Regions from separate parts of the Homo sapiens genome. Here all the other regions are linked to region 2. The links come from fine-mapping of genetic effects on gene expression. A gene starts in region 2. Each other region holds a variant in brackets. All regions are shown on one strand. Distances are between the middles of the regions. Region 1 has its middle 95 kb from the start of TGFBR2. Region 2 holds the start of TGFBR2 (transforming growth factor beta receptor 2). Region 3 overlaps TGFBR2 (transforming growth factor beta receptor 2).

What was found. PIP is the estimated chance that this variant, and not a neighbour inherited with it, causes the effect.
Region 1: its variant is fine-mapped to the expression of TGFBR2 in whole blood (TOPMed, PIP 0.93).
Region 3: its variant is fine-mapped to the expression of TGFBR2 in whole blood (TOPMed, PIP above 0.99).

The regions. Positions count from the first base shown.
Region 1 is chr3:30,696,548-30,707,228 of GRCh38, forward strand. No RefSeq gene overlaps it. Among named protein-coding and RNA genes, the nearest start is that of TGFBR2, 95 kb to the left of the region's middle. The variant G/T (reference allele first, on the strand shown) is at 5,723.
Region 2 is chr3:30,602,611-30,612,777 of GRCh38, forward strand. TGFBR2 (transforming growth factor beta receptor 2) reads left to right here and starts at 3,991. Exons shown (of 7, transcript NM_003242.6): 1 at 3,991-4,367. The coding sequence starts at 4,274. LOC105377015 (translation initiation factor IF-2-like) reads right to left here and starts at 4,314. Exons shown (of 2, transcript XM_047449400.1): 1 at 3,536-4,314; 2 at 1,789-2,948. The coding sequence starts at 4,314. The coding sequence ends at 3,874. RefSeq lists a silencer at 4,065-4,164.
Region 3 is chr3:30,627,171-30,637,851 of GRCh38, forward strand. The region is part of intron 1 of TGFBR2 (transforming growth factor beta receptor 2); the gene reads left to right. Among named protein-coding and RNA genes, the nearest start is that of TGFBR2, 26 kb to the left of the region's middle. The variant G/A (reference allele first, on the strand shown) is at 5,530.

The sequences.
Region 1 (10,681 bases), 94 kb after region 2:
GCTCCGGGCTGCAGCCCAAGAGCTTCAGCCAAAACAGGAGCCAAGGTCTTCTAACCCCTCTCCCTTCTTCCACGCTTTGTTTTGCTGGGGTTATTTTAGTTCTTGCTACTGCAAGGTCAGGAACATTCCCAACTGGCAATTGGTCTCCAAGTGCCCTCAGCATGGACTCAGTCCCTTGCACCAGTCAGCATCCTTTGAATGCAGTCTATATTTGTGCCCAGGAGTTTCTATTTGTGGTGGCTGTTTTTGTTTTAAGCTCTCTATGCAAATGACACACTAATGGTCTGGTCCTAAGGGAAATTCTGTCTTCAGGTGACAGAGAACTTTTCATTTAAACAAGTGTATCTATCCTTTTTCACTAAAGCCACTACAGTCGGCATCTGCTCATTTTGTTCATTTTCCTCCTGAAATAGGTTAGCTAATCATTGCTTATCACATTTCCAACTAGTTTCTTTTTTTTTACTTGAATAACTATAGCTCCACCCTCTATGGGTTTGGGGCCATGCCTTTCAGGCCTACTTTGCAAACTGTGCTGATAAAAGACAAGATTGTGAACTTGCCCACATTACATGGGCTGCCAATCAGCCTCACATGGTGTAATTTAATTCTAATACGCCTCCTGATCTTTGGTGCATTTAAAAATAACTTGTTAATAGTCTTCCTATTCTAATTAAGCTAAAATTGCACACACTGTGAAATGCTTGCTCTCTTGCTCTCTCATGCTCTCTCTCTCTCTCTACACACACACACACACACACACACACACACACACACACAATTGATCCTTAAAAATCATTTCTGTAAACTGCCTGTGTAGCACAGTGCTTCTGAAATTCTCCTGTGTCTTCCCCTGACCTATGCCCACAATGATAGACAATAGAATAAAATAACTGTGGCCCTGGTACCCTAGGTCCATTAAAATATTCATAATAAATTGTCTAAACATTGATAACAAAGTGGTTAAAATTGGAACCTCTAGAGCCAAATCTCCTGGGTTCAAATCCCAGCTCTGCCACTAACTGTAACTTTGTGTAAGTCTTTTAACTGTTTTTATTTCCTGGTTTCTTAATGTGTAGAAGGAGGATAATGATGAGATCTACTTGGGAAAGTTGTAAGAGTTAAATGAAATACTGGTTTTTTAAATGGTTAGAACAGAGACTGATGCACATAAGTATTCATTATTATAATTCAGTTTTTGCATTCTTTAAAGTGAAGCTGTGTTGTTGCAGTATTTTAAGGATATATTGTTCCCCAAATTTTTGGGTAAAATTGACTGTTAAGGAAGATGAGTCATGTTTAAACTGTAATTGTGAGTAGACCACCCTTTATCCTTGAAGGGCTTTCTCAACCAGGTGAATGGCATGGCTGTGGTGGGAAATACAGGGCCCTGTGAGACAGGAAATCTAGGGGGTTGTCTAGCTCCATTACCATCCTCTTCTTTTATGGATTCAGTGTCTTGTTCTTTTGTTCCATGTGAGAATCATCCCTGCCCTGCCTACGTTATAAAGCTGGAGAAAAATGAAATAAGTAAAAACACATGGAAAACGTACTAAAATATTAATGCAAGGATGCAAGGTATAATCTTTGCTGGAACATTAGTTCCTCATTTATTAGTAACATTACAGGCATTTGAAATTATGTACTTTATATGGGACCTATATTTTAAATATATGCTAATCATCCTAGAAGCCCTACAAGGTAGGTGTTACTTTTTTCCATTTTACCATTAAGGAAATTATCCAGGTTTACACAACTTGAACCCAGGTCTCTGTCAGTAAAAAACTGTCTACTCTTCCAAACCATTTTATCTATCCATATTTATTTCCTCCATCAAACATTAGTTGAATGCAATGTGGTGTATCACCCAAGGTCGGCTGGCATCTTGAAAACAATAACTATGTGTTACTCAGCATCTTAGCACCTAGCAAAGAGTGGAGAATATAACAGTCTTTCAATTAAGTTTTGTCGAAGAAAGAAATGAAGGCTCTTGGTCTTTAGAAATTCACAAATCAGCTGAGGAGACAGACATACTAACCAACAGCATATGATCAGCATGTTCTAATTGGTACTGTCTCTGGAATAAAACAGCTGGCAGCAAAAAATGTCTGACTTTTGCAGAGAAACTCCTAATATGAGTTTGACTGCTGTCCCACATCTACCTATGTGGTCGTAGTGCTGTAGTCACTGTTGTTACCCTAAGAGGACAGCCTTGTTCCTCCAGGTCTCTTACAACTCTCTTTTAAGGAGCTCGTATTAGATCCCTAGAGCTGCTGTAATGCATTGCCCAAATCTTGTGACTTAAACCAACAGAAATTTATTATCTCATAGTTCTGGAGGCTAGAAGCCTGAAATGAAGGTGTCTGCAGGCTTCACTCTCTCTGAAATTTTTATGAGAACATTTTTCATGTGATTTAGAGCCCACCTGGGTAATCCAGGATGATATCATCTCAAGATTCCTAACTTAATTACACCTGTAAAATCCATTTTTCCAAATAAGGTCATATTCACAAGTTCTGAAGACTAAGGCATGGACAGATCTCATTGGAAACCATCATTCAACCCACTGCAAAGCTTTAGCCAATTCCCAGCTATGAATTCTTCCAAGATGAAAGGATACCAAGCTCAAGACTCTCCCTTGTTCATTTGAGGCCTTCCCAAAGATGACTGACATTTTCACAAATTTTATTTGGTTTCATTTCCTATCTTAACGAAAACAATGATAATTTCCTATCTTAATGAAAAAAATGATAATGTTTATACTGTATGATAATTAAAACATCATGTAAAGATTACTCTTTATCTAAATGTTTGCACATACTCTTTGAACATCCATCATTTTTCCAGCAGTTATGATTTTTTCTTCCCAGGAATATGGGAATGAAGTGAAATTGACAACTTTTCCCCCACGCATTGTATCCTCTTTTAATGCCACCCCCTGTGTTTAACAGCCTCTGACACAATGTAGGAGCAATCCATGGTACTCAAAGAATATTATGGAATTTAACAACAAGTATATATATTTGTCTTGATCCAGTGTCTTATCTGATTACCTTGGGCCACAGGAATACCCTAGGTGAGAAGGGAAAGTTGGGTTCTAGCCCAAGTCCTGTTACTAAGTCTCTTAGCTCCATGACCCTTGGATATTCTAGTTATTATTACTACAAAACTTAGCGGCTTAAAGTAATCTTTTTATTTTACATAATTTTATGGGTCAGAAATTTGGGAAAGGCTTAGGCTGGAAAGTTTTCACTTGGAGTTTCTTCTACCATTGCAGTCATATGTCAACTGGGACTTAAATCATCTGATAGCTCAGCTAGGCTAGATATCCAAGATGCCTCACTCTGGTGGTTAGTACCAGTAGTTGACTGGGATCTCAGTTGGGGCTGTCATCTAGGACAACGGCACATGGCTTTTCCAAGTGGCAGTGTTAAGACAATACTTTTAATATGACATCTGGCTTCCTCTAGGGTGAGTGTAGAACCTGTGGAAACTACACGGGTATTTATGACATAGCCTTGGAAATCATACAAGATCACTTCTCCCATACTCGATTGAGCCAAGCAGTTGCAAGTCACCCAAATTCAAAGCAATGGGACGTAGCTCCCCACCTCTCAATGGGAGATGTGACAAAGAATTTGGGAGCAATATTTTAAAACCACCACAGGTACTTTATACTATGTGAGTCTTGCTCTCCTCTATAAAATGGGACTACATTGTCTCTAAGACTCCTCTAGGGCTTAAAGTCTATGGGGCACTTCCCTTTAATAATCTTAATTTATAGATACTTACATTAGTATTTGTATTCCAATTCTTTTCTATCATAAAATAACCGTAGTACATAGAATTTTTAAAAATAGAAAAACAGGCTTAGTTTCAATGCCTAAATCTTTATGTATTTCCATATTTCGAGTTGTTTTCTGCGTGTTTGTTTGTTTGTGGTGCTTGTGTGTCTGTGTGTGTGAGTGTGGTGAACCTACCAGTACATCATTTTGGCATCTTTTCTCAGAATTAAACAAGCCAGGAAGACATTCTGACAGTTTGTTTTTAAAGACCATCAGTTGCCATTATAACTAAACATACTATACAACAGTAACATTTAATATCCCAATTAAATTGTAGTAGTTGTTGACCTCAGATTACAAACTCAGGTGGGCCAGAAATGTCTTATTTTACAATAAATCTGTTTTAATTTTGATTCTGAACCCCTGTCCTGCTGAGCTGGTAGGAAATATAGCCCTTCATTTTTGAGACAACCTTCCCCACTAACTCCTGAGGTTATATCATTCATCCAGGTCTCACACAGTTGGAACAAAGGGGAGGGGGCTGAAGGGTTTTGGTTCTCAATTATCCATGAAACCAAATTCACCCTGAAATGACCATTATCCTTATTTGCTGGGCTTGTTCAGGTCTGCCTCTCTTATGGTTCGTTGCCTTGCAGGGAGTTTGTGATTATTCTCCAGGAAACAGAATATCTCAGGTCTAGACTTGCTTTTTGGTGCACCACAAGCAATTTCCTTATATCCTCCATGTCCTCAGGGTCCTGCCATGGAACAGTAGGCAGGTGCCCTCTGCTCCAGAGATCCCCACAACTCTTTCTCCCTCAGGTCCTACAGATTCCATATCCTCTGCCTTTTGCCTTACCCAGGCTCTATTCCTGCTCGTTTCTTAGTAGTTTTTGATAGCCTACCAAAATCATTAGCAACCAAATAACTGCTTCACTTCATCCTGAAATTTTCCCTGGAGAAGGAAATATTTGCGTTCCATCTTTCTACTGCTTCAGAGAAAAGAATAACCAAATGACTATTTTTCCACAATAAGAGTGAATGTTCACATCCTGCTACAAAAGAATACATAAGGCTAATTTATATGCATTGCATATTCTCCAATATATAAAGGGAATCGCACTTCCATCAGATAGTTTTTTGAGTCTGTGTTTAACTGCTTCCTAAATCTTCTGGGTCTAACAGGAGAACAGCGTCTTTCATGGCTGATGACACTGAAGAAGTGCCAAAGAAACAGCAAAATGGCAGATTTAGTGTTTATTGTTGGGATAAGATAATACAGGTTCATAATCCCTATGTGCTGTTTCACATTCAAAAGCTCAGAAAAATCAAAATAACTTCTAGCTCATTAGGCTTCTAAACCTGACCTGAACTAATGTGAGGCTACTTTTAAGTCTTTATTTACCACACTTACGGTGCATATTTTTATGTTATATACCAGAAATATTAGTATGACTGATTATGGGAGTGTTACCTACTTCGTGCTGCAGGGTATCACATGTTGGGACTCAGAAAATGATACCCTGAAATATACTGCTTTGAACTTCCAACTGAGAGGACCTGAGGAGCAGCAAATGCTGAGTTCCTTATTTGACTAAGAGAATTTCCTTCAGAAGGCATTAAATTGTCTTGCCCCACCCCACCCTTCATCCCCATAATTTCATCAAACAGATGAGACTAACTCATAGGAAAGAAGATTGAAGCTGACTCCACACTTGGAGCTCATACAAACTTTTTCCCAGGCTATTGTCTGTTCTTCAAGCCCATTCACCTCCCCTAAAAATCATGTATTCTTCCTCAAAAATTGTCTATTATCTTCCACTTCCCTTTCCCCCATGAAAAGTGTTGAGGCTTATTCTGAGCCAATATGAGTGACCATGGCCTGAGAACCCAATATGAGTGACCATGGCCTGAGAACCATCTCAAGAGCTCCTTCAACA[G/T]TTGTGACTGAGCTTGTCAGGTTGCAGTTTGGTTTTATATATTCTAGGGAGACAGGAATTATAGGTAAAATCATAAATCTATATATAGAAGGTATACATTGGTTCAGCCTAAAGGGGTGGGATATCTTGAAGGCAGGGTGGAGGGGATGCTTACAGATCATAGGTAAATTCAAAGATTTTCTGATTGGCAGTTGGTTGAAAGAGTTAAGTTTTGTCTAAAGACTTGAAGTCAGTAGAAACAAAAATGCTTGAGTAAAGATAAGGGGGGTTGTGAGGGCCAAGGTTTTTGGTATGTAGATGAAGCTTCATAGATCACAGTCTTCAGAGAGAATAGAAGATAAATGTCTCTTTTCAGACTTTAAAGGTATCAGACTCTCAGTTAATCTCTCCTAGATCCAAGAAAAGCCTAGAAAGAGAAGGCCTGACTCCATTAATGGAGATTCTCTACAGATGCAAATTTCCCCCACAAAAGATGGCTTTGCAGAGCCATTTCAAAACATGTTAAAGAAAAATAAAGTAAAATCTGTTTATTTCCTTCAGGGTCTGCTATCTGTCATGTGCCATGACATGCTATACCAGTCAGGTTGGAATTGGTGTCTTATTGCCATAGTCTGTTTACTCAGTCTTATGATCTCTATTTTAATGTTAATGCTGGTCAGTTGCGCCTAAACTGCAAAGGGTGGGAGTATGATGAGGCATATCAGACCTCCATTCCCATCATAGCTGGGAATTCAGTTTTTCAGGTTTCTCTGGGTTCTCCCTGAACTAGAGAGGGTCTGTTTAAAGCTGCATTTGCAAACATTATGACAGTGAGACAAATCTAGCATGGCTGATTCCAACTTGCTTCTAGCCTCACATGCTGGCTGTTTTTACCCATTCTTGGCTATAGGCCAAGCTAACCATGAAAGGGGACTGAATTCTGCTAAGATCTACTTTCTGTAGTCCACTACTGCTCAGGAGTCACGTGGCTGGAGGTCACAAGATTTGTGACTTATTGCTCCTTTAGATAACATCACTATTGTAGAAACTAAATTGGCCTTTTGAGATGTTTTTTAGACTTTTGTGTCCTGGCAACCACTGACCCCACCCAGACTCAGGACTCAACTGGTCCTGTGGCCCTTCACCCAGAGTGCCCCTCCAGCACACAAGGACTATTTTCCATGCCCCTGTGATTGCATCCCCAGCTAATCAGCAGCACCCATTCATTAGTCCCCTGTCCACCAAACTATCTTTGAAAAACTAACCTCTGAGCCTTTAGTGAGGCTGGTATGAGTGACAACTGCAGTTCTCCTGTGTGGTCTGCCTCATGTCAGTTAAACTATTTCTTTACTGCAATACCACAATCTCAGTGAATTAATTTTGTCCATGTAATGGGCAGGAAGAACCCACCAGGCGATTACATGTTTAGTTAGCTGAGGGGGCTTAGGATTTTATTTTTGGTTTATAAGAGGGGATTTAAGCTTCAATCATCTGAATTGTCTTTGAGTTTTCATACTTTTTGTGACTCTGTGCACTTTCATCTTAATACATTTGTATGCCTTTTCTCCTGTTAATCTGTCTATTATCAGTTTATTTCAGCCGACTCAATTATCAAACCTTCAGAAGAGAAGTGTAAGCTTCCCTGCACACATAATATGTACCATATTATCTTTTGGAAAGTTCTCCAAAATTCTAGCTTTCCAAACCTATCTTATTCTAGGGATTTGAGATAAGGCTTGGGATATATATATATATATATATATATGAATTAGAAAGTTTCTTTTTCATGGTATTTCTTCATGTGCCCATTACAGGGACAGAAAAGATAATTTTTCCTCTACCCTTGTAAATTCTCAGCTGGGGCCTCAATATAAAAAGACAGATTAACAAAAGAAAAACAAATAGAAGTTTATTAACATGTATACAGTGACTTTTTCTGTAACCTCTGCCTCCCCCCCTCCCACCATGTTTATAGACCCCTGCATTTAAACCATCTGGGACTTCAGGTTTTAAACACGAGCTGGCTGAATCTTCTTGCTTGGTACCCTGCAATAAATGTATACATGGGAGACACCCAGGGACAAATGAGGAACTCTCAAAGAGATAGTTTAGAATTCAAGCATAAATACTATCTTCAGCTAAAGACAAAACAGAGAATGGTGTCAGGGAGGACGAGGTAACTAGGAAAAGTACAGTAAAGAAGAGTAAGTTTTGTAATGCAGATGTAAGTCAATACCTTCCCCACTGCTAAGAGCCTCTAGTGATTTACCCATCTTTCTCTTTCTTATACAGAGAGGGAGACACACTTAAAAAATTGAGATTTACTTTATAAATGCAAATTTCCCATAGAAAAGGGTTTACTTCTCCTTTATTTTCAGAGCTTCTCCTGTGTCTGCTGTTTCTCAAAATAATTCTGCTAAAGAGGCATATTTTGGGGTGTCATATTCTGGTCTCCTATATCATTCACGCTAAATCATGGGGCAGGATGATTTTCCGTTAAAGCTGAATACCAGGGAAGGCTTTTTAAAATTTCAAATGCTTGTGCTTCTGAACATCAAGAGGCAATCTGTGAAGAGATTCAAAGCAAGAAAGAAGACAGGAAACATAAGAACAAAGCTTCTTGTTTCCCCATCACCAAGTCTAGTTAAAATTTTCCAGTTGAAGGGAGACCAAGGAACTAAGATGAGATAAGATGTTCATGGGGCTGAGGGACAATGTGCTGCAGACTTGAAGGAACCATGCAGAATGAAGGTAAGTCATCATCCAGGGAACAGCCAGCCCCCACTGGAGTGGCACTTTATACTGTCAGCCCATGGGAACACCACGGATACTAAGTCAGAAACTCTAAAACTTCTGGATCCATTCAAGTGAGAATCATGTCGCTTGTGCCAAAGAATGACATCAATAGTCTTTCATACTAGCAACTGGTAAGAAGCGCCCATCCATAGCAGCCTACTGCCTACTTAATGTTAATCAGTACTGGCTCCAGTGGCCCAAGATAATTTTCTCAGGCCTTGACTGTTATGAATTAACCTAACTCAATTTTGCCAGTCAAAATTATCAGATTCATTTGGTTATCAGTAGTTTCAAATGCTTAGAAGCAGACTAAGGATACAAGACTCCTCCCAAAAACCTCCCCAGCAGGCTTCACTGAAAACAATCTCAGATTGCAAAGAAAGGAGTCACACAACTGAGACAGAGCAGGGACCCCTCTTAAAGGCCTGCAGCCCACCCCTCACCACCAAAGCGTGATAATAAGGGAATATTTTGACTTCCTTTAAGGGAAATTCCATACACCTAGTTAGCCCTGGGAAGTAAATGAGCGATTTGATAAGCAAGAAGACAAAAGTAGCTTAAAACAATAGCTAAAGCAGTTAGCATCACAAGATGTTTTGTTCCCTATAGAAATTAAAGATAACATTTTAACCTCTCTTCCTGAGTTGGTTTACAGAAATCCAAACTCCCACCAAACGGATCCATTGGCACATAGAACTCAGATAAGGGGCAATTGAGGACTGAACTCCGATCACCATTCTTCGTTCTAAATTTCTTCCCGAGGGAGGCAGTTAAACCCATGAGCTAAAGCTAACATTCTTTTCTGCTGATCCCAAATTTTAGACAAAGCTTTGCTTCTTAACCAATCACAATTCAGAAAGTCTTTGAATCTACCTATGACCTAGAGGCCCTGCTTCAAGATGTCCCACATTTTTAGTCAAACCAATGTATAGCCTCAATGTATTGATTTATGACTTTTTCTGTAACCTCTGCCTCCCCATCTTTATAAACTCCTACCTTTAAACCATCTCAGAGTTCAGGTCTTAAACATGAGCTGCCTGAATCTTCTTGCTCAGTACCCTACAATAAATACCTCATTTTCTCTCATCTCCATCCCAGTGTCACTCTTTGGCTTTGCTGCACTGGATTAGCAGACCCCGGTTTGGTTTTGTTGGGTACAGGCCCCCAAATCTGGCCATAAACTGGCCCCAAAACTGGCCATAAACAAAATCTCTGCAGCACTGTGATATGCTCGTGATGGCCTTGACGCCCATGCTGGAAGGTTGTCGGTTTACTGGAATAAAGGTAAGGAACACGTGGCCCACCCAGGGAGGAAAACCGCTTAAGGCGTTCTTAAACCACAAACAATAGCATGAGTGATCTGTGCCTTAAGGACATGTTCATGCTGCAGGTAACTAGCCAGAGCCCATCCTTTTATTCAGCCCATCCCTTTATTTCCCATAAGGAATACCTTTAGTAAATCTTATTATGACTGGCTTGCTGTCAATAAATATGTGGGTAAATCTCTGTTCGGGGCTCTCAGCTCCGAAGGCTGTGAGAGTCCCTGATTTCCCACTCGACACTCTATATTTCTGTGTGTGTGTCTTTAATTCCTGTAGCATTGCTGGGTTAGGGCCTCCCCAATTGAGCTGGTCTTGGCAGGTTTGATAATACAACCTTTACCACAACCTCAAGGAAGTTCCAAGTCTCTCTCTTTAGGTACCATCACCAGACCTCACACCTGAGACAAGAGCAACAATATTCTAAAGTTAGGAGGCAGCAACTTTACAGTTGGTGTTCAACAACCAGAATTTAGTAAATTAGTACCTGGACATTGTTTCAGAAACAAGCTTCAAATGCCATTGTAAAAGATCTGGATGTCTGAGCTAGCTGGATTCTATTCACCTGAAGATGGAAGGGATCTTCACAATATTTTTAGTCCATCCACATATTGCTATAGTTTGGATTTTTGTCCCCCAAACCTTATGATAAAATTTGATCCCCAATGTCAGAGGTGGGGCCTAATGGAAGTGTTTGGATGATGGGGGCAGACCTGTCATTAATGGCTTGGTGCCATCTTCATGATAATGAGTGATTTATTACTCTATTAGTTCCAGTAGGGAGCTGGTTGTTTATTTTAAAAAAAGGGATGGAAATGCCCCTCTCACTTGCTTCCTCTCTTACCTTGTGATCTCTGCACATGCC
Region 2 (10,167 bases):
TATTCTTATTTTTCTCTCTATTGAAGACAAGAAACACACACTGAATACTGATTATCTGTAGAGCACGGAGTGTGGTTCTACATTGAAAAAGGAATATTTTGTGCTTTTAAGGGCTTTACAATCATTAGGGTAGAATTCTAAAAAGCAAATAAATAACAATAATGTACTCCATGTTAGAATGGGGCAAACATTTTTTTTTAAAAAAAGGCTAAATAAACGAAATGTTCCCTGGGTTATCCCTGGGAAAGGAGTGATCACAGTAGGTGAAGCATCACAAAATATTTCCTGGAGGAGGTAGCATCATGGATGACCCACAAAGGGTGGATGACCCTCACAAATTAACTACAGTCTCAGTGCTTATTGGTTTGCTTCACAATAAAAGGAAAATTGGTCAAGAGATAAGAGCTGAGAATGAGGCTGGTTAATTTATAAGGAGAGGAATCTCCCTGTTAACTGCTCTAGCTGACAGTAACCTCAACAGCTGCATGTCACAAAGCTCAGGGGAGTAGGAAGTTCTTCTCTCATCACAACTGAGAAACCCAACGTTTAAATAAACCACAATTTGATTCAGTTCAATTGTGTGTGTTTGTGTGTGCGTGCAGAGTTTAAAAAGCTGGTAAAATAGATTGTCAGCTTTTAAAATTTCTGTTCAAGTTGATATTTATTGTTTTTCAACTCATTAAGGGCTTAAACGTTACCTTCCTTGTTTTTTAAACCCTGAGTCGGGCTATTATTTTTTTGTTCCCATTTGCAAATGGCCCAGTTTTTTACATGTATATATTAACTGCTTATGTGAATACACAAAATATTATACTAAGCCAAATATACAACTATGTGTGAAAATGATGTCTTGATTAAGGGTATCAGACATCCCTTTCAACAAGAATTTCAAAAGGAAGGGCATCATGACAATTTTTTTTTCTTTTTCTTTTATTTATTTTTTGTTTTTGAGACAGGGTCTCATTCTGTCTTCTAGGCTGAAGTGCAGTGGCACAATCATGGCTCACTGCAGCGTTCGTCTCCTGGGCTCAAGTGATTCTCCCACCTCAGCCTCCTGAGTAGTTGGCACTATAGATACATGCCAACATGCCTGGCTTTTTTTTTTTTTTTTTTTTTTTTAGTAAAGATGAAATCTCACTATGTTGCTTAGGCTGGTCTCGAACTCCTGGGCTCAAGTAATCCTCCCATCTAGACCTCCCAAAGTGCTGGGATTACAGGTGTGGACCACTGCACTCAGCCTGATGAATTTTTAAAATTATCAAATTGCAATATGCATGAGTTTACACATCTATTATTTTTATTATGATGATTTTCAAAAGGCTAGCTTGCACTTGGCAATGCTGAATTCTGATTCTTCTCAATTTCACAGGAGACTGGAGATTAAATCAGAAATGTTAAGGGCAAACAAAATTAAAATCAACATTAATGATGTATCATGGCAAAGACCACCAGTTAAACATTCCACCATAGATTTAAATATCTAGCCTCCAACAATGTAAAACATCTTTGTGATAATTAAGGAAAACAAAGCTTTTGGAATCTATTGGACATTTATTTGCCACATTGTGTTTTCAGGAGAAAGAAAGTACATGTTTGCTATCTGGAGGAACTTGGGCAAATGTAGGAAAAAAAAAAGAAGAAGAAAGAAACCCACATACTTCTCCATTCTTAAGAAAAGGAAGTAGTGGTGACATCATTCTCGGCTAAAATGTAGTCTGTTTATATCTCAAATATTCGGTAACAATGTTTTCTCCAGAGTTATGAAGCAACTAGAACAATCAAATACAATTTTCTTCTAAATCTTTATTGCCTGATTCATTCATTCATCCAACAAATATTTATTAAACATCGATTATGTGTTTGATGCTTAGGGACACAATAGTAAGTGGAGGGAAAGATACATAATACCTGCCCTCAAGAAATTTGGAGTTGAGTGGAGGATAGAAATATAAATTAAAGAATGACACAAATAATTATAAAGTTACAGCTGTTAAAAGAAAAGCATATGGTGCCAAGAGAACGTGTAATACAAGATCTACTCATGGAGGTGAGGGAAAGCTTGCCCATCAAAGAAGTTATGATTCAATCCACGAAGACCAGGAGTTGGCTGGGTGAAGAAAAAAAGGTCAGAGGAAGGAAGTCCACACTGGGGAAGGCTCTAAGCATAAAGGGTAGGAGGATTACAGAGGCATATTCACGAAATTTGGAGAAGGCTTTCAGTAAGCAAGGAGAAGCCAAATGAAAGTTTACGGGAGAGTTGGAGGCTTGAAGACACGTTCAAGGATCTGGTTTTTATCTTCTCTTTATCTCAAGAGCAGTGGGAAGCCATTAAATGATTTTAATCAGAGGGTTGGTATAACTAGTTTTGTATTTTGAAAAGCTGAATTCAGCTCTCGTTTGAGAAACTGAGTGAAAGAGCCCAGAACGGCCGTGGCTGAGGGTGACTCGTGGGAGACTCCTACACAAGCCATGGCAGTGGCATGGGCTGGTGGCAGAAGAGGGAATAGGGAGAAGATTTGGAACTCAATCTTCCTCCATTGACAAAGTCACTCCAGCTTTGGCAAGGCAATTAATTGGTGGGAAAGAAGATGCCTAGCCCTCCTGATTTCACTGCACTTTCTGCATCTTCAACATGAGTACTGGGAAGTGGCAAAACATCCAGAGGCAGCTTGGGTGCTAGGTGGAGCATGAGTTAAAATTCCAGGATGAAGCAAATGAACACTTAGAATGACAGGAAAGATTTGGGAGTTGGGTTTGGGGGAGGGCTATTTACCTTTATTCCCTGGAGACCCTGGCACAAACCCTTGCCTCTGCAATCTTCCTCTCAGGTAAAGGAATTCATTAAATGAATTGCTAGAAGATCTACTGACCAGAGGGCTGTACAGAATCATATCTTTGAGAGTGGGAAGTAGGTTGATCACATAGTTTATTATCCAATCAGGACATATCTGAAAGAGAAAGGGGGTTCTATTAATATTTAAACTACAAAACATGTACACCAGGAATGTCTTGGGCAAATCTGGTTGCCCTAGCAAGAAAGGAAATTTGAAAGTTTATACTGTTCTGCTCCCATGTTACCCCGTTTGCACATGAGAGGGTAAGTATTCTCTTTCTTCACCTGCATTAAGGGAATAAAAGCACAAGCATTCAGGTGACTCCCAACCCACTTTTAATTTTACAGTTTCTGCTATACTCTATACATTCTGAAAATTACATTTCCCACCACTATCACTTCGTGATAGGTGATCATTTACAATTACTCACTGACTCAGTCCCGGGAAGAGGCGGTGCAAAATGGGACGCTCTATCCAGGTGCTCATTAGAAATGCAGAATCTCTGCCTGCCTCCTAGACCTACTGAATTAGAATCTGCATTTTTAAATAAGATTTCCAGGTGATCAATATGTACATTAAAACTTGAGAAAAACCTCTAGACTTCGACCTAAAGAAAAACATTTTACAACTTGACAGTGTATGCACATACATACATGCATATAGACACAACTGAAGCACAAATTTAATGAAGTAGAATTTACCGTTACTATTTTATTTGGGAAAGAAATGTGCTCGCGACTCAATAGATTGGAGTATTCACTCCTGGATCTCAACTTGCAATTTGAAAACGCATCTCTAAAGCACCTAGGAGCAATCTGAAGAAAGCTGAGGGGAGGCGGCAGATGTTCTGATCTACTAGGGAAAACGTGGACGTTTTCTGTTGTTACTTTGTGAACTGTGTGCACTTAGTCATTCTTGAGTAAATACTTGGAGCGAGGAACTCCTGAGTGGTGTGGGAGGGCGGTGAGGGGCAGCTGAAAGTCGGCCAAAGCTCTCGGAGGGGCTGGTCTAGGAAACATGATTGGCAGCTACGAGAGAGCTAGGGGCTGGACGTCGAGGAGAGGGAGAAGGCTCTCGGGCGGAGAGAGGTCCTGCCCAGCTGTTGGCGAGGAGTTTCCTGTTTCCCCCGCAGCGCTGAGTTGAAGTTGAGTGAGTCACTCGCGCGCACGGAGCGACGACACCCCCGCGCGTGCACCCGCTCGGGACAGGAGCCGGACTCCTGTGCAGCTTCCCTCGGCCGCCGGGGGCCTCCCCGCGCCTCGCCGGCCTCCAGGCCCCCTCCTGGCTGGCGAGCGGGCGCCACATCTGGCCCGCACATCTGCGCTGCCGGCCCGGCGCGGGGTCCGGAGAGGGCGCGGCGCGGAGGCGCAGCCAGGGGTCCGGGAAGGCGCCGTCCGCTGCGCTGGGGGCTCGGTCTATGACGAGCAGCGGGGTCTGCCATGGGTCGGGGGCTGCTCAGGGGCCTGTGGCCGCTGCACATCGTCCTGTGGACGCGTATCGCCAGCACGATCCCACCGCACGTTCAGAAGTCGGGTGAGTGGTCCCCAGCCCGGGCTCGGCGGGGCGCCGGGGGTCTTCCTGGGGTCCCCGCCTCTCCGCTGCGCTTGACAGTCGGGCCCGGCAACCCGGCCCCCGGGCGGAAACGAGGAAAGTTTCCCCCGCGACACTCACGCAGCCCGACTCCCGTAGCTGCAGGGATTGTGAGTTTTTCTTGAAAAAGAGAAGGAAAGTTCAGTTGCAAGGGGCGCGGGGCACGTTTGGTCCCCTTTGTGCGAGCAGGAAAGGCGTTGTGTTGGCCGCGTTCGAGGCGAGCCCCCACCCCCGGAAAGGGAAGTTTGAGAAGTTGGTTATCTGAAGGCGGCCGGGGAGCAGCGGCCCGGAGCGGCAGCCTGAGCTGCCAAAGCAGCCAGCGCACCTGGGCCACTCCGCCCATGGCGATGCCGCGTGCCCACCCAGCTCTTTCTGAGCCACCCGTTCAAAAGGCCAGCTCCTCAGTCCTTAGCTCCTGGAGACGGCCACGCTTTCCCTCAGGCCGGCTTCTTGGCCCGGAGTTTTTGGAAACAAGTTTCAAGAAAATAATCGATTTCCAAAAGAAAGTTAGCTGGCTCCACTGACGCCTTGGCATGGATGGATAGGGAGTGGAGATGCTCAGGTGAAACCGAGAATCCCTCACTGAATGCCTACTGGGTGCTAGAGGCTGTAGATTTTGCCTGGAACAAGATAGTCCTGTCTTCAGGGAGTTGATGGTTCTATGCAATTATCGTTTGTTGGAAACCGAAGGGTTAAAATCCTAACTAGGCTACCCACCTGATCGCTGTCTCTGAAGGTTTTTAAGGAAAAAATAAAAATAAAAAAATATATATATATATTATATATATATAAATATATATATAATTATATATATAAATATATATAATATTAATATATATATGCATGCAGGAATGGGGGTTCTTAACTATTTGTTATGGAAAGTGTAAAACCTCTGAGACTTCAAAAGTTAGATTTTTTTTTTTTGGAGACGGAGTCTCGCTCTGTCACCAGGCTGGAGTGCAGTGGCGCAATCTCGGCTCACTGCAACTTTGCCTCTGGGTTCAAGCGATTCTCCTGCCTTAGCCTCCCGAGTAGCTGGGATTACAGGCGCGTGCCACCACGCCCAGCTAATTTTTGTATTTTTAGTAGAGACGGGGTTTCACCATATTGGCCAGGGTGGTCTCGATCTCTTGACCTCGTGATCCGCCCACCTTGGCCTCCCAAAGTGCTGGGATTACAGGCGTGAGCCACCGCGCCCGGCCAAAAGTTAGACTTTTTGCAGCTATGATCCAAATAACAGTATCTGCAGCTGTGGTCTGGGTAACCGAGTATTTGGGCAAGTCATAGAGCTTTTTCTGGGCCTTAGTTTCCTCATCTGTAAAATGGCCAGCTTGAATCTGGGTAATTTTACATCATCTTCATGTTTAACATCTTACGTATCGTGCCCCTCCCCTCCTTTCCCCTGGCTCTTCTGGTGACTTGGAGATGACCCATGTAGACTTTGGATGAAATGTAGAGGAGTTGACAGTCCACATCACCCGGAGGCACTCATTTTATTTATCCAGGGACATGGGCAGATTTACCTTTAGGTTTGTCTAGAAAAAATGCGCATCACGGTCAGTTGTAAATTTTAGAGTGTTTGAAGTGGATTGGGAACTTTTTAAAAATTATGGCATACATTGAAGGTGGCATGGAGATGGAAGCTTTTAATCAAATTAGGAAGAGGCACTATTGCAAGCAAAAAGTCTTGACACACATTTGAGTCCTATGGTTTTAATAAAATCTTAGTGTTTCGTTCTTGGCGTTTTTCCTGCATTGCAGTACCAGAATGTTCAATTGTCTCTCATTTTCCTCCAGACTTTTAAAACCTAAGTGACATTTTGCTAATAAATATTTAAAATGGCACCCTTAATTTTCTGTGGATGTTAAAAATCATTACAACTTTTGTTCCAGATTATAAAAGAAGGAAATTAGCAGGCCCTGATGTTGTTAGTTAGGTTCTGTTTACAAGGATAAGGTTTATGATTTGCAAATTCCAGACCCAATAGTTCACGAGTCACTTTCATTTCATCAATATACACACTTTTAAACAATTAGCTTAAAAACGTGGTGGCTTTTTATTTGGGTATTTAGACAGTTTTACAAGGCCCACAGATTTCATATTTTTATAGAACTGAAGTTTCAAAATGGTTGAATTAATGAATCATTTTGAATTTGTATTCATTTGATTCAAATTAAATTTTCAAAGTTGGCCAATGGTTGAAGACAGATATATTGAAGACGAGAAACCTAATTCTACTTACATTTTAATTTTTCATGTAAGTAAATAGTTTCAGAATTTCTCTAACGTAATTGGTAAACTGAAAACATTTTTTCAAAATATCTTAATGCAAGATAATATATCAGGTAATGAGATTGTTTAATAAACAACAAGCTCCTTTTACGTCACCTAAAAAGGCCCAAAAATCTGTCTTCTGTTTAGTAGCTTCTGTACTTCTGTTTAGTAGTATGCAAAGGATTTAAATAAAAGAACAAATTTCACTAAGAAATAGAAAGTTTTTTTTTCTTCGTTTTTGACTTAATAGATTCACTCTTCCTAAATGATCAAAATTAAGAAATGACTCTTTTGGGGAAAACTGTAAAGTGCACAATAACTCTTCAGGTCTGAAAAATATGACTTTTCAGGTTCCTGGAAGTAGATAGATTCTTATTGAGGACAAAGAATTTGTAAAAGTGTCATAGTGATCAGGTTCTTCACATCACTTTAATAACCTGCTTATTTTGTCAGGGTAAGAGACTAGACATCATTAGGCCCCAAATCTGATCTTCAGTCTACTCGTGCTTTTTTTCCGCCTCATAAAAACACATTTCCACCTTTAGGCCACTCAACATCTTATTTTTAATGAGTTATGATTTATACAAAATACTAATCACATTTTGAACTCATTGCCTTCTTTTCAATGTAGCATTCCCTAATGATGACTGTTGTCTATGTAGTCAACATAACTACTACATGTTTTCTACTCAGTTATGAACATGACTTTTTAATTTTTTCAGTAAGGTTAGTTTTTAACTCTGGATCAATAAGGCACCTCTGATATCATTGCAAAAACTGGGCATTTTTTCTTCTACCTTTTCAACCATATTTATTGAGTATCTCTTGCCAGGCAGGATGCTCAGACCTGGGATACCATCTCAGATGAATAAGACAGACCTGGTCTTTGCCATTGAATTTAACAGCTGGGAGCATGTTATAAGTAAAGAAAAGGATACGTGTTTTAACTGTTTATATTTGAAAGCATTATGGAATACTGGTGTTTTATTTTCTACACCTCATTTTCAAAAGCCTCATTTTTTTTTGTTGTTGTATGCACTAGGAGGATGTGCATGTTGAATGTTTCCTTCTAGGTCCCATTGAATGTATTTTTGAATCAATTTGTTGTCTCTTTCCTATCCCTGCCTTGTCACGGAGCCCCAGTTGGGCAGCCTTTAATTGCATTCTCCATTCCATAGCCAGCATGATGGACCCAATGCGTTCATTTAGTGCTCTCTTTGAGGATAGGCTGGTGGTAGAAGAGTGTAGGGTATAAACTTTGGAATCAGGCCGTCCTGGGTTCCAGACCCACTTGCCATGTACTGGCTGTGTAGCCTGTTGTAGTTGCTTTACCTACTAGTCATCCCTGGTCTCATTTGTAAAATGAGGATTATGGAGTTATGGTGAGGATTAAATAAAATATTGTTTTAAAGTATTTAACATGGTGCCTGCAACATAGTAAATGCTCAATAAATATCAGCTTCTGTTATTACTATTAACTCCTTAATTGGGCTTACCAGGGGCCTCTGACCTGGTTCCCATTTGACTCTGCTGCTTCACATCCCACCACAGCCCACATTTTCCCAGTCTATTTGTGTCACTACACATACACACAATGTGAGCAATTTAGGCAGCTGTTCCTTTGTTCAGGATGTCTGGAACTCCTGCTACCTGGCTAATTTTCACTCATCTTTTAAGACGTAGTTCAAGTGTCATCTTCTTGAGGAAACCTGCTTTGAATGTCCCAGTTTGAGGTAAATGTCTCCTATGAGATACAGACCTCTCACTTAGCTGGTAACAATACCAAGCCAAAGTCATATCTTTACGTAACTCTCTTGCCCATTATACCTTTAATCCTCTCAATCTTATTCAGTTTTCTATCTCTGGGATCTCTGGCAGTGCCTGACACATCATTTAGCACCCAGGAAGTGCTGAGCTGAGCCTCCACTTCATCCTACTGTATCTAATGCAACTGAGGTCGAGCATTTAACTAAGCAGTCACTGTTTGTTAGGTGTTTGGTCCAAATAGTAAAATCTTTACTTTCAGTTAGAATAGTTTTAGTTCTGATCACAATAAGTAATTTGACTGTTTTTGAAGTATGGAATTGGTTCTTGTATTCTCATGAAATATGGAAAAAGATGTTTCAACTTCTGACAAACATGATGGAAAGCTGCTAGAAGTTTTCATGCAATTCCTTTAGCCATAAATTTTGAATCAGTGTAGGGCCTTGAAAGCCACTGCAAAATTTTAAATAAAGTCACCAGAGGAATTATCCAGTAGATACTGATTCCTCTTTTTTTTTTTTTTCATAGAAGGGTGTCGGAAAGAGAATTTTATTACGAATGAAGTGCTAAAATCTAAATTTATTTTTTAAGTTTCTTTTTTCATTGGGTTTTATGTTTTGGTTTATAAGGGTGAAGCAGCGTTGGTTGAAGGGAAGTGTGGTCTTGTAGCCACCACTGCCTACTCTAGAGTAGCGTGGATATTATTTAGGTCTGATGCAAACCACCAAAGCAGTTTTAAATAGGGTGCAGGGGAAACATACTTCCTGGCTACAGCATGGCATTATTTGGCCAAGTTCCACATAAAAGCATAACTCTGTTACCTTGTTAGCTTCTACCCTCCAGGTCCTTATGTACAACTTCAGCAGATTTAAGTTATGATTTTCAGTAGAACAGATATGCATTCGCAGCAAGAATGCTCACCGCTTCTTTTGCACTCTCTACTTTCCTGGTAATATTTTGCTCCACAGGTACTTGTTGCTTGTGACTGAGGCAAGATAATGACTCATACTTCTTTGCTTGGCATGCCAAAGGGTTTGGAATGCTGGACAGGCAAATTGTCTCATCTCAGGGAGAAGGAAGAGAAAGACAATTAACATTTGAGAACCTACCCTGAGACAGCCACTTGATATTATGTATCTCATTTAATCCTAGGAAGAAATCTCCAAGATAAGTTTTATTATCTTTATTTTATGGATGGAAAGATGGATCCTGCTCAGGGTCTCTCTGGAGTTTTGCCTGGGTGCATGTATGAGTGTGTGGCCCAAGCTTCTTGTGCTTGCATGCTGCTAGGTTCTTTCGTGTGGTCTCTATGTGTGTATGCGTGTGTTGGGAGGGAGGCTGAAGAGGGGTGAATGGATATCAGATTTGAGAGAGGGGAAGCTTACCATCTAATGTCATCAGTTCAGTGCTCCTGATTTAATTGATTTGGTTTGCTTGCATTATCTGCCTCCTTCCTGACTACATTTGTACCACAGAAAATCAAGATAAGGCAGAGTTTCTTTGCATAAGGAAACTCTACAGCCCACAGTTTGACAATGGTGTCTTAGTGGTAGGACTCATGGTGGGTGACCTGTGGTTTGGCCACTTATAGCAGTTGGACATACCCCATTTGCAAAGATGTGTATTGTAAACCCCAAATTTTGAGTGTGTAGGACAATCATTTGTGTACAATCGTGTACAACTGCTGATGAGGGCAAGAAGAGC
Region 3 (10,681 bases), 25 kb after region 2:
GTTCCGCACACAGTAGCCTAGAGACACCTCTGGAATAAGGTGTGACAAAAAACAAGGAAATAAATTTATTAATTTTGGAAAATGCCTTCTTTTTCCTAGGCCTCCCTCATAGACATTTTCCTGACAAGTCCCCACTTCAGGTTTCAGAAAGAGATGCACCATCGTTTGGAATTCTGAAGAAACTCAAGTTTCAATTGAGCTGAGTCTCAGTGGCATGTATTTTATTACATCTAATGCCATTTTAATGTACTTGAAACTGGGGAGATGAGGGCAATTGGTACACATGTGTAAACCACTACAAAAAGTTCACCTGAGTGTAGAAGGTAGCCAGTAGCCTAAAAACCCTGTATTTTGGAGGCTGTTACTTCATAATCTCTATTATGAAATTGGGAAAAATTATGTAATTATCTCTCTAAGATGGTCTTAGATCCACTGTTCAATAGAACTTTCTGCAGAGATGAAAATATCTTATACCTGGGCTGTGTTAAGGTTTAAGGACAGCACTGGTATAAGATATTTTCACCTTTGCAGGAAGTTCTATTGAACAGTGGGTCTGAGACCATCTTAGATGATACATGTGGCTTGAAACGTAGCAGGTGCAAATAAGGAACTGAATTTCAAATATAGATATATTTTTATTTCAGTTAACTTGAATTTAAATAGCCACAGGTGGCTCTTGGGTATCATAATGAATAGGGCAGTTATGGAGCATCATTAAAGTCCCCATTCTTCTCAAGTCCCAAAGAGGTCCGTTCAGGTAATTTCTTAGCACCTATAATCACAGTGGGACAGATTAAATTACTTGTACTTTTCCATTCCTGTGCTTTGGAATTATAGGCTGTTTCTTTGTCCTGGAAACCAGATAGTCTAATGTTTGTGGAAATACTACTTAGTAGTGCACTGCAATTATAATACTTTATTGTAGGAGGATGCAGCCAGGCCTTTTTTTTTTTTTTTTAATCATCTGTGTTTTTAGTTTTAATCTTAAAAGGATTATAAAAATAGTACTGCCTTGTGGGAGAAAAATATGCTTAAAGTCTATGAGCATGGAGTGGTAGGGATTATAAACCGTTACAAACTTCTCCTGGAAATTCTGGGGAAAGGGAAGTTAAAGCGGCCAATAGAAATCTCCTAGGAGAAAACTTGCCCTGAAGGGATGCTTTTAATTGGGTTCAGTATTTATCAGAAGAACCCTGCAAAAGTGGTTTCCCTGAAGGCATTTGGATTTTCCCCTGTGAATAAATTTCACCCACCTTGGTCACCTCTGTGCTGTATTCTCCTAGAAACTCACCTTTATTTGGCATGCTGTGACTTAAATCCTCCAAAAAAAAAAAAAAGCCTTTGAAAAAGCCTGTGGGTTTTTTTTTTTTTTTTTTTTTTTTTCTCTAAAATGTTAATTTCCTTTCTTTAGGCTTGTGTGGGCTTTGACTGGAAACTTAATCTGTGTGCCTGGGCTCTGCATTAGGTTTCAGTCATTGAAATGGGGCTTAATAAGAATTACTTGATACCTTAGGAGTCAGACGAGCCTTACATTTATCTTGGGCTCAGGGATTTGCATTTTGAGAGGTTGTGCCAGCTGACATGAGCCTTTACAGGTTTCAGCTTGTTGCAAACCTAGTTGGGTCCATTTCTCTCACTTCTGAGACCTTTTGCTGCTGCCACTCATAGCTAACGTGTTTTCCATGGAACACTACTCCTTGTCCCTAATTGTCTTCTCTCCCTACCTCAGCAGTGACACTACAGACAGCCAGTCATTTAATACGAGACTCATTCCTTAAGAAGTTGGGATAGAACTTTAATTACACAAGGCATCCAAGCCAGCAGTCAGGGCCCTTTCCAATGCGATTACTTTTCAAGCTCTGCCCTGCTTCTCCTTCCATTTCCCTCTGGGCCTTCGTTTTCAGATCTCCTCAGAAGCCGAGGAACGCAGGTCCTTTTGAATTTCTTTAGATCAGTGTTGTCCTATAGGACTTTCTGCAATGATGAAAGTATCCTGTCTATTCCTGGCCACATGTGGCTATTAAGCACTTGAAAATGGCTGGTCTGACTTGGAACTGAATGTATGATTTCATTTAACTTTAGTTAATTTAAATTTATAAATCCATGTGTCCTCATGGCTACTGTGTAGCTCTATCTAGATTATGCCCTTGACTTTTGAACAATGTGTCTTGGGAGAGTTCTCTTGGCTCTGGCCCTCCACTTTCATGAACCAGCTCCTCCCAGTGGGGAAAGAAGAACTCTCTTTGACTTCAGAACTGACTTCCTTTTATTGCTAAGTTAGACAGGCTAGGCCTTGAGCTTAAAACTCTTCACCAACTGTTTATACCCTCCATACCTGGCCTCAACATGTCCTTTTTTCTCTGTGACTATATCCTTATTCTTTATCCAGCAACAGCAAATATGCATTAATTTTCTGCAGATAAGGTTTCCTTTGGAACTTAAGGAAGAGGTATGAAACTTGGCTTTGGAGGACTTAGGGATAGGAAAGCCATCACCAAGTGTTTATAGAGTACCAACCACCGTGTGCCAGCCAATGTTTGAGATTTGGGGAATACAGAGTGAATTAAAGTCCATGTGTACAAGCTAATAAACAAGATTCTATCAACATGTCAGCAGATAAGTACAGCGCGAGGGTCTGAGAACAATGGTAGATGCTTGTAATTTTAGAAGCGGTTGTCAAGAATGGCATCTTTGATAATGTGATATTTGAGCAGTAATTGGTATGAAATCGGGATGAAGAAGGCAGATCTCTGGGTTAAGCGCATTCTAGTTGGAGGGAACAGCAAGTACAGTGTCCTAAAAACAGACTGTGCTTGTCATTTCCTCCCCTCCTCCCCCATGGTTTCTCATTTTTGCTTCTCTTTCTAAGAGTTACATTTATAGGCATACATTTTTACACTGGACATCACAAGAAATTGAGCGAGTTCACAACTCCACTGGTGCTGGTAAAAAGATTATGCTAAGATGGATAAAAGACTATGAAACATAGTCAAAATGCACTTCTCAGTCACCTCTGGCCATACGATTTTACACATCTGGGTTCTCACCCCAGAATGAGATAGGTTTAATAGATAAGATTCAGTGTGGGGCAAATCTAAGGTGCCAAAGTTAGGTACATACTAGAACTTCCATAAAGAGTTGTCTTAAGAAATAGAAAGCATTATAATTTGACTTTGTAGCCAAAGGTCATTCAAAACATTTCAAAGTTTAGATCACTTATTCCAGTTTTATCTCTAGTACTAAATGTTATTTCAGCACACAAATGTGGTCATTCCCCATGGATGGAAGGAGCCAGCTGTGTTCCAGAACTATGTTGGAAGATTGCACCTTGAAGACTGTGTGCATGGTTCTCATTTTCCATCTTAAAATCACTGCTGGAATCTATCTTGACTTTTCCACAGCCCATTGACAACTGTCATTATGTAAATACTGTCCTTTTTTCTCACCAACTACTGTGGCTGATGTCTCCCCTCCAAAATTTATGTTGAAACTTAATCCCCATTGTGGTGGTATCAAGAGACGGAGATTTGGGGGAAGTGATTAAGTCATGAGTGGATTAGTCCCACATAAAAGGGCTGGAGGTAACCAGCCTGGATCCTTTTGCCCTTCCATTTTCTGCTATGTGATGACACAGTACTGGTCCTCTCTAGAGGACACAGCAACAAAGCACCATCTTGGAAGCAGGAAAGGGGGCTCTTACGAGACATCAGAACTGCCAGTGCCTTGATTTTGGACTTGTCAGCCTCTAGAACTGTGAAAAATTTCTGTCCTTTATAAATCACCCAGTCTCACATATTTTGTATGGCAGCCAAACAGACTAAGTTACCAACCTTAGTGGGATTGCTAGGACTTGGAAAGGAGTAGCCTTTTTTTTTTTTTTTTTTTTTTAAATACAGAGTCTTGCTCTGTCGTAAGGCTGGAATGTAGTGGCACAGTCTTGGCCATCTGCAACCTCTGTCTCCTGGGTTCAAGTGATTCTCCTGCCTCAGCCTCCTGAGTAGCTGGGACTACAGGCACGCACCATCAAGCCCTAGCTAATTTTTGTATTTTTAGTAGAGACGGGGTTTCGCCATATTGGCCAGGATGGTCTTGATTTCTTGACCTCGTGATTCACCCACCTCGGCCTACCAGAGTGCTGGGATTACAGGCGTGAGCCACCGTGCCAGGCCGGGAGTAGATATTTTAATCACAGGAGGTAGCATCAGAAAAGTTGCAGCTACTCACCACAAGAGAGACCTTTATGATGTTTACTGCAAATTGCATCAAGGTCATGACAGCAATGAGTAATGCCCAGGAAAGGCGAAGATCAACCTTACACTTTTTCATCTAACTGCACTGTGAGAAAACAAGCAAAATTGCCCAGTTTAAGGGCAGATTCTCAGATTTTGTTTCAAATTTCCTGCCCTTTGTTGTCCTTTCTAGAAGCCTTAACAATACTTGCAACTTCTTTCTTTTTTTTTTTTTTTTTTTTTTACTTCCTCTGCTTGAAAAACATGAAGGGGGAAGTTTCAAAGTGTTTGGTGTTATCTTAGAAACCAAAGTGAATCTGAATGTGTCTTTCTGTCCTTTTTGTGTCATTTTTCAAAATGAAAGGGACCTTTAAGTTCATCATGTCCAACCCATTTGTTTGACTGGTTGGAGAACAGGCACAGAGAGTGGTTGGGTAATTGCCCTTGAACTCAAAGCCCCCTCATGGTCGATTCAGAGCCTTCTCCACTGCAACCTGCTGCCATTCCCAGCATGGTGAATTCTCCTCCAGTAGAAGTCATATAGCAATGTTTTATAATTAACTTTTACGTGAGCAAATGAGCTCCAGGAGAGAAGATTAAGGAATATTGCTTTCCATATATCTGGATGGCCCAGAACACTTTTTAACTAGGTACTTAAAAATCTACTACAATTGTTGTTGCCCATATTCTTCTGTAATTCTTTCATCAGCTGTGAATGAAAGTACAGCAGTTTTATTTCCTTGAAAAGTAAGCCAAACATGATTTTATTTCAATATTTTAGAATTCCACAATCTTAAGACACATCATTGCCTTCCCATCTCTGCATGTCAAACTTACTAATTTTATTAGCATGTTGCGAAATAACACACTAAGTGTCTCAAAGCCAAAGTAGATCAGCTCTCGCCTGATAAATGTGCAGGAGTAAGCAGAGGATTTGAAAATTGAACTGGATTCTCAAGTTACTGCCTGTTTGCCAGACCTATGCTGGTTATGAACAATATTTCAAAACCAGATTATTTGGTTCTAGATCCTAAACACTCTTGGCAACTTTATTGTAACGATGATTGATTCCATTGTATATTTGAAAGCATCAGGGCACAGTGGTAACAAAAAATTATTATATTTCAATTTGTCTATTCATTCAAATTTCCTGAAAGGTTTTTTAGAAGTCATCAAACTGCTACATTCTATTGATGAGTAGGAATAGATTTACCAAACTCATACTTATCTTGTCATTTGTTTCCTGCAATTTTCTTTGGTGTGAGAGAGCATTGCATGGAATGTTACCTTTCTAGCAAGT[G/A]AATGCTTGTGTGGCATTTTTTACTGTCTAGAGGATTTTCACAGGTACTTCAAGCATGTTTGCTCTTCATCATGATCCTACATGGGACGATTTCATAAATCAGGAAATGGAGGTTTCAAGAAGTTAAGTGGCCCACAGCTAATACATGTAAGAGCCTGAATTCACACTCAAGTTTTTACCTTAAAACTCTTGGGCTTCACCAAGCTGACCTTATTATATATGTCTCCTAAAATAAGTGAAGTAATTACAAAGAACCAAAGCTTTTGTCTAAGAAACTTATTGCTTCCCCACCCCTTGTATACTTTCTTCAACTCCTAGTAGTCACACCTGTGTCTTTGCCTTGTACTGGAATGTGTGTAAAGTTCTACTCTTAAACTTTTTGATGGAATATCTATTTCATTGTGGAGTATCAGGAAGGATGAGGGCTTGTGTGTCACCATTGGCTTTGTCTTTTATTTGCTTTCTCTCATTGATATGATATGATAAGTTATTTCATCTCTTTGACCCTTAATTTCTCCATCTATAAAATGTTAATGACAAAATTGCATGGTGGTTGTGATAAGTAAATGAAATAATCATCACAGTACTTAATACTGGACTAAGCATTTGGTCTGCATTCGATAAATCATGATCATGGTAATAATAATTATTAACATCACATAGATCTGATTTCTAAAGTAGATGTCCTCTGGCCTTGAACTGAAATGTGATTATACACATTAGAGAATTACATGCATGTTAAAAATATTCATATTAGAGAGTTAAATCATGACTTTTTGCATTCTAGTTAAACCCTAATATTAGAAGAGAGAATTGAATGTGCAGGTGAAATAATCATTAATTGTAAACATTCAGGTGGCCACAGGGGCCTGGCAGGGGAGTAGGTGACATGAAGGAGTGTCAGGGAGGAGGCAAATTTGAGGACACAGAGACTTTCTCAAGAGGAGCATCTCAGCTCACAGTCAGCTGACTGTTGTCTTGGGATGGTGTGGGCCCACTGTTTCCAAGTCTTTTTTATTTCTTTAAGTGGAATTAGAAAACCAGTTTTGCATGTGAAATCTCTGAATTTTAAAACTTGGTTTATATTTTAAAAAGAAAAGAGTTCAGGCCAAACAGAACACATCTGTGCTCTGTGTCCAGCTCTTGTACCCACTGTAGCAATTTCTGCTTTAGCTTCTCAGTCTGTGCCCAAGTTATTTGGTTGTTAGAAACCAAGCGCCTTGGACCTCGTTATATTACTTTTTAAAGGGATGCCTTTCCCAAATATGGTAGTACTCTGGCCCTTTTCCAGAGAAAATATGGAAATCATCTGTTTTGACCAATATTTTCACATGTTTAATAAAACTGTAATTGAAAAACCTTTCAGGTACCAGGCATGCACAAGAACCCCGCAGCATATTTTGAAAAACTGAAGCAAAAGCCTCCACGGAGAAATTTATCAGTGAAAATTCTGCTCTCACAGAACATTGATATTCGGACCAAATCCCATGCTTAGTTGAGGCAAATGGTTCATTTCAGGGGCTGATTTTTCAGATTCTCTAATAGTCACTATCTTTTAAAAATCTGTTCTTACCAGATTTTGTGTTAGTTTCTGCATTTTCCATTAAGCTGCCTCAGTACTTTGAGATAAAGAATTGTTTAAATCCTAAATGAATAACTTAATTAAAAAGCACATCTTCATTTAGACCATCCTTATTTCCAAAGCTCTTTTGATGAAAATCATTTCGTGCATTTTTAAAAATTCCCTAGAAGAACTTAAAGATCTTGAGGAAAGGACCATGTCTTATCCTGTCCCCCTTCCCTCAAGGGTTTAAATATGAGGGCTGTCAGAAAGCAGCACATTTTCGTTTAGGTTGACTAATTTTGCTGGTAAGTAACAAATTACTTTAGTTGAATTGGAATGTTGTAAAACTCCGTCAGTCGTGTATCATTATCTTGCCTCTATCAGTCTGTGCCATTTACCAATGTTTTGACCATCACCAAGAGAGTTATTTAATCATCTTTTATTTTCAATAATAAATTATTTCCTTGTTGCTACAGCACTCCAAGTCCTGTCAACTGAGGGAGAATTGTTTTCTCAGTTGCTGTCACTTTAGGTAAAGTACCAACTTTAAAGCACTTCTCAGCAGAGGCATAAAGTTATTATTTTGAGAGTTCATGAAATAGTGCTCCATTCTACTCTTTCACTTGATCTAATATACCATTTGCATTTATATGGCTTAACTTTTTTAACTGGCTTCCTGTTCTTCTCAGCCCCAAACCCTACATTCTGGTTTTTGACTCATCTCATAGTCCCTGCAGTCAGTCTTTGCCAGATAAAGGCACTGTTAAAGTGAGCTTTATCAATGAAAAACTTAAGAATTTCATGTATTGATGACAGTATTTACTATAAACTGCTTGCTTCTCCCCAGCTTTCAGAAATTTGTTTTATTCACTGGGTCCTATTAGAGCTGAAAGAGCATGATTGAGAAAGTTACAATTGTTTCAGCTTTTTGAATATGGCACAAGTGCTAGAATTCTGAAATACTGCCTTTGGCAACAATGTGTAGATATTTCCACCTGCAAGAGTCATTTTAAATGTTTAGATTTTGTCTCCTGTTATGTGGCCTGTATCTCAGAGAGGTCCCCTGCCACTAAAAACAAAAACAAACAAAAAACAGAAAAATAAATGAAAATTCAGCAAGCGTTGGGGGGACTCAAATTGTACTTCATTCTTCAATGATACAAGAAAGCAAGAAAACCAAGTATGCATTTTTAGGATTTATTTGGGGTCATTGGGGCTGGTAAGTGTTAAATAGGAAAGGATGCAATTGAAATTCCAGCTCAGTTATTTTATGTTTGTCACTGGAGAAAGCCAATTATTTTTCCGTTCAGCTACAGCTTGTTTCATTCCGTAGAAGACTAAAAAAACTTCCTTGTAAATTGCATTTAAAAAAATTTGAGTTTAAAGGTACAGCCAAGATTTCAATTTAAAGTACCTCATTGGATGAATTCATTTGAGACACAAGTAATCATTCCTTAATCCCTTAATTTGTTTGGTAAATACAAATTTATGTTTATGCAGTTTTCTTAAAGCAATCATAGCAAACTACTAAATTCATGAGCCAAAATGCTAGTGAAACTCAAACCTACAAAGCTAAATTCCCTCAGTTGAACAAGTCCAAATGAGGAAATCACACACATAAATGCATAAACACACACACTCACACACACACTTCCCGTATCAGCTCTGTCTCCATTTCTGACCTCATGTTTGCATTTAAAGGCAAGTAACTGATTCACATGAGGTTGCCGTTGTTAATGTTGCCTCTCAAACTAGAATATAAGCCATAGGAGGGTAGGGACCAACCTGGTGTTTGTTTTAGATGTCTTGTTGTGTGGAGAGTATCCCAGACATTTGATATCCTTAATTGTTGGCCAGATGGTAGGTAGTTTCAGTGTGAAAATATATATGTATGTGTGTGTGTGTGTGTGTGTGTGTGTGTGTGTGTGTGTGTGTGTATAGTACTGGGATTACAGGCGTGAGCCACCGCACCCGGCCCGTACTAGGTATTTTACTAGAATTATTTCCTGCTCTAAGAGATTTTAGAGTATTGATTATGTCATTCTTGACAGGTTTTAAAAACTATATTAGTATTACAAAAACATGTGCATGAAAAGGAAAATTGATGCTTTTGAGCTTATCTCTTTATTTTCTGCCCACATGGTGGTCTCCCTATTAGGTATTGTTTCTCCACTTCTGATCCTGGTGCCCAGAGGCTATGTGGGGCTGTCACTTGAATGAAAGCTGCATGCATCTGCCATGACAGAATCTGCCTTGCATTTGCTCATTTATAATGAAAACATTTTTTAAGTACAGAAAAATAATAGAAAATTCAAAAGTAACAGAAGGGTATGAAATAAAAAGTTGCTTCTCAACCTCAGTTTTCTACCTATTTATTTTCCTTTTACAGGGCCAAATAATGTTTGATTCTCATGTCCTTGCATCTACTCCCAGAGACCGTCTAAATATATAAGCATGCATGTGTGTGCACGTGTGTGTGTGTGTGTGTGTGTGTGTATTCCCTTTAAAAAGCAGTAACAGGCCAGGCGTGGTGGCTCAAGCCTGTAATCCCAGCACTTTGGGAGGCCAAGGTGGGCAGATCACGAGGTCAGGAGATCGAGACCATCCTGGCTAACACGGTGAAACCCCGTCTCTACTAAAAATACAAAAAATTAGCCAAGCGTGGTGTTGGGCACCTGTAGTCCCAGCTGCTCGGGAGGCTGAGGCAGGAGAATGGCGTGAACCTGGGAGGCAGAGCTTATAGTGAGCCGAGATCGCGCCACTGCACTCCAGCCTGGGTGACAGAGCAAGACTCTGTCTGAAAAAAAAAAAAAAAAGCAATAAAAGCAATAACAACAAAACAGAAATGGTGGTGTGTCAACCAGGGTTCCAGTTGCAAGCAGATGGCACCCTCAAATTAGGGAGATTTAAGGAGAGTTTAGTAAAACAAGTACTTACAAAGGTATGGATAGAGTCAAGGGAAACCACCACAAAATGGGAGAAACCATAGTGCAGATACTTAGGACTAGTAATTGCTATGTTGACTTGCTAGGCCCAAAGTGGCAAGGAGAGGGAAGAAGTAAATCTTGGAAATGACCTCCTGAAGAGAACCTGTGACCTCCAAGTGAGGGACTTGGCCAGCTGGAAAAGATTCCACAGAGGGAGCCAGAACACAGATACCTTAAATGTGCTCCTCATTGCTTCCCTTAGATACCGCTGGGTCACCCCATTGGCCAAACTTACTGGAAGCTTGAGGGCAAGAGAGCCGGTTGATGTAGTCCATAAAGATGAGCCTCCTGGGGCAGACAGTCTGGTGACCAAGGGTGGAGAACTGATCTCTAAGGGCAATAGAAGACACCCAGCCCAAGTAACTCTATACATTGGTCTCTACCTTGCTTATTTTCTTGAATGCTATAGCCTGGGCTTCAACACTTATAAAGATAGCCACATGGAGCTGCCCTCTGCTTTTTAGTCGTTGCGTTGTGTTCCTTGTTTGGATTTGTCTAATTTATTTTACTAGTCTTCTCTTGATGAGTGGTTAAAAAAAAAACCTGTTTGTCCTTACAAACAACACTGCAGCGAATTTATCAATGAATATCATAAATTTTT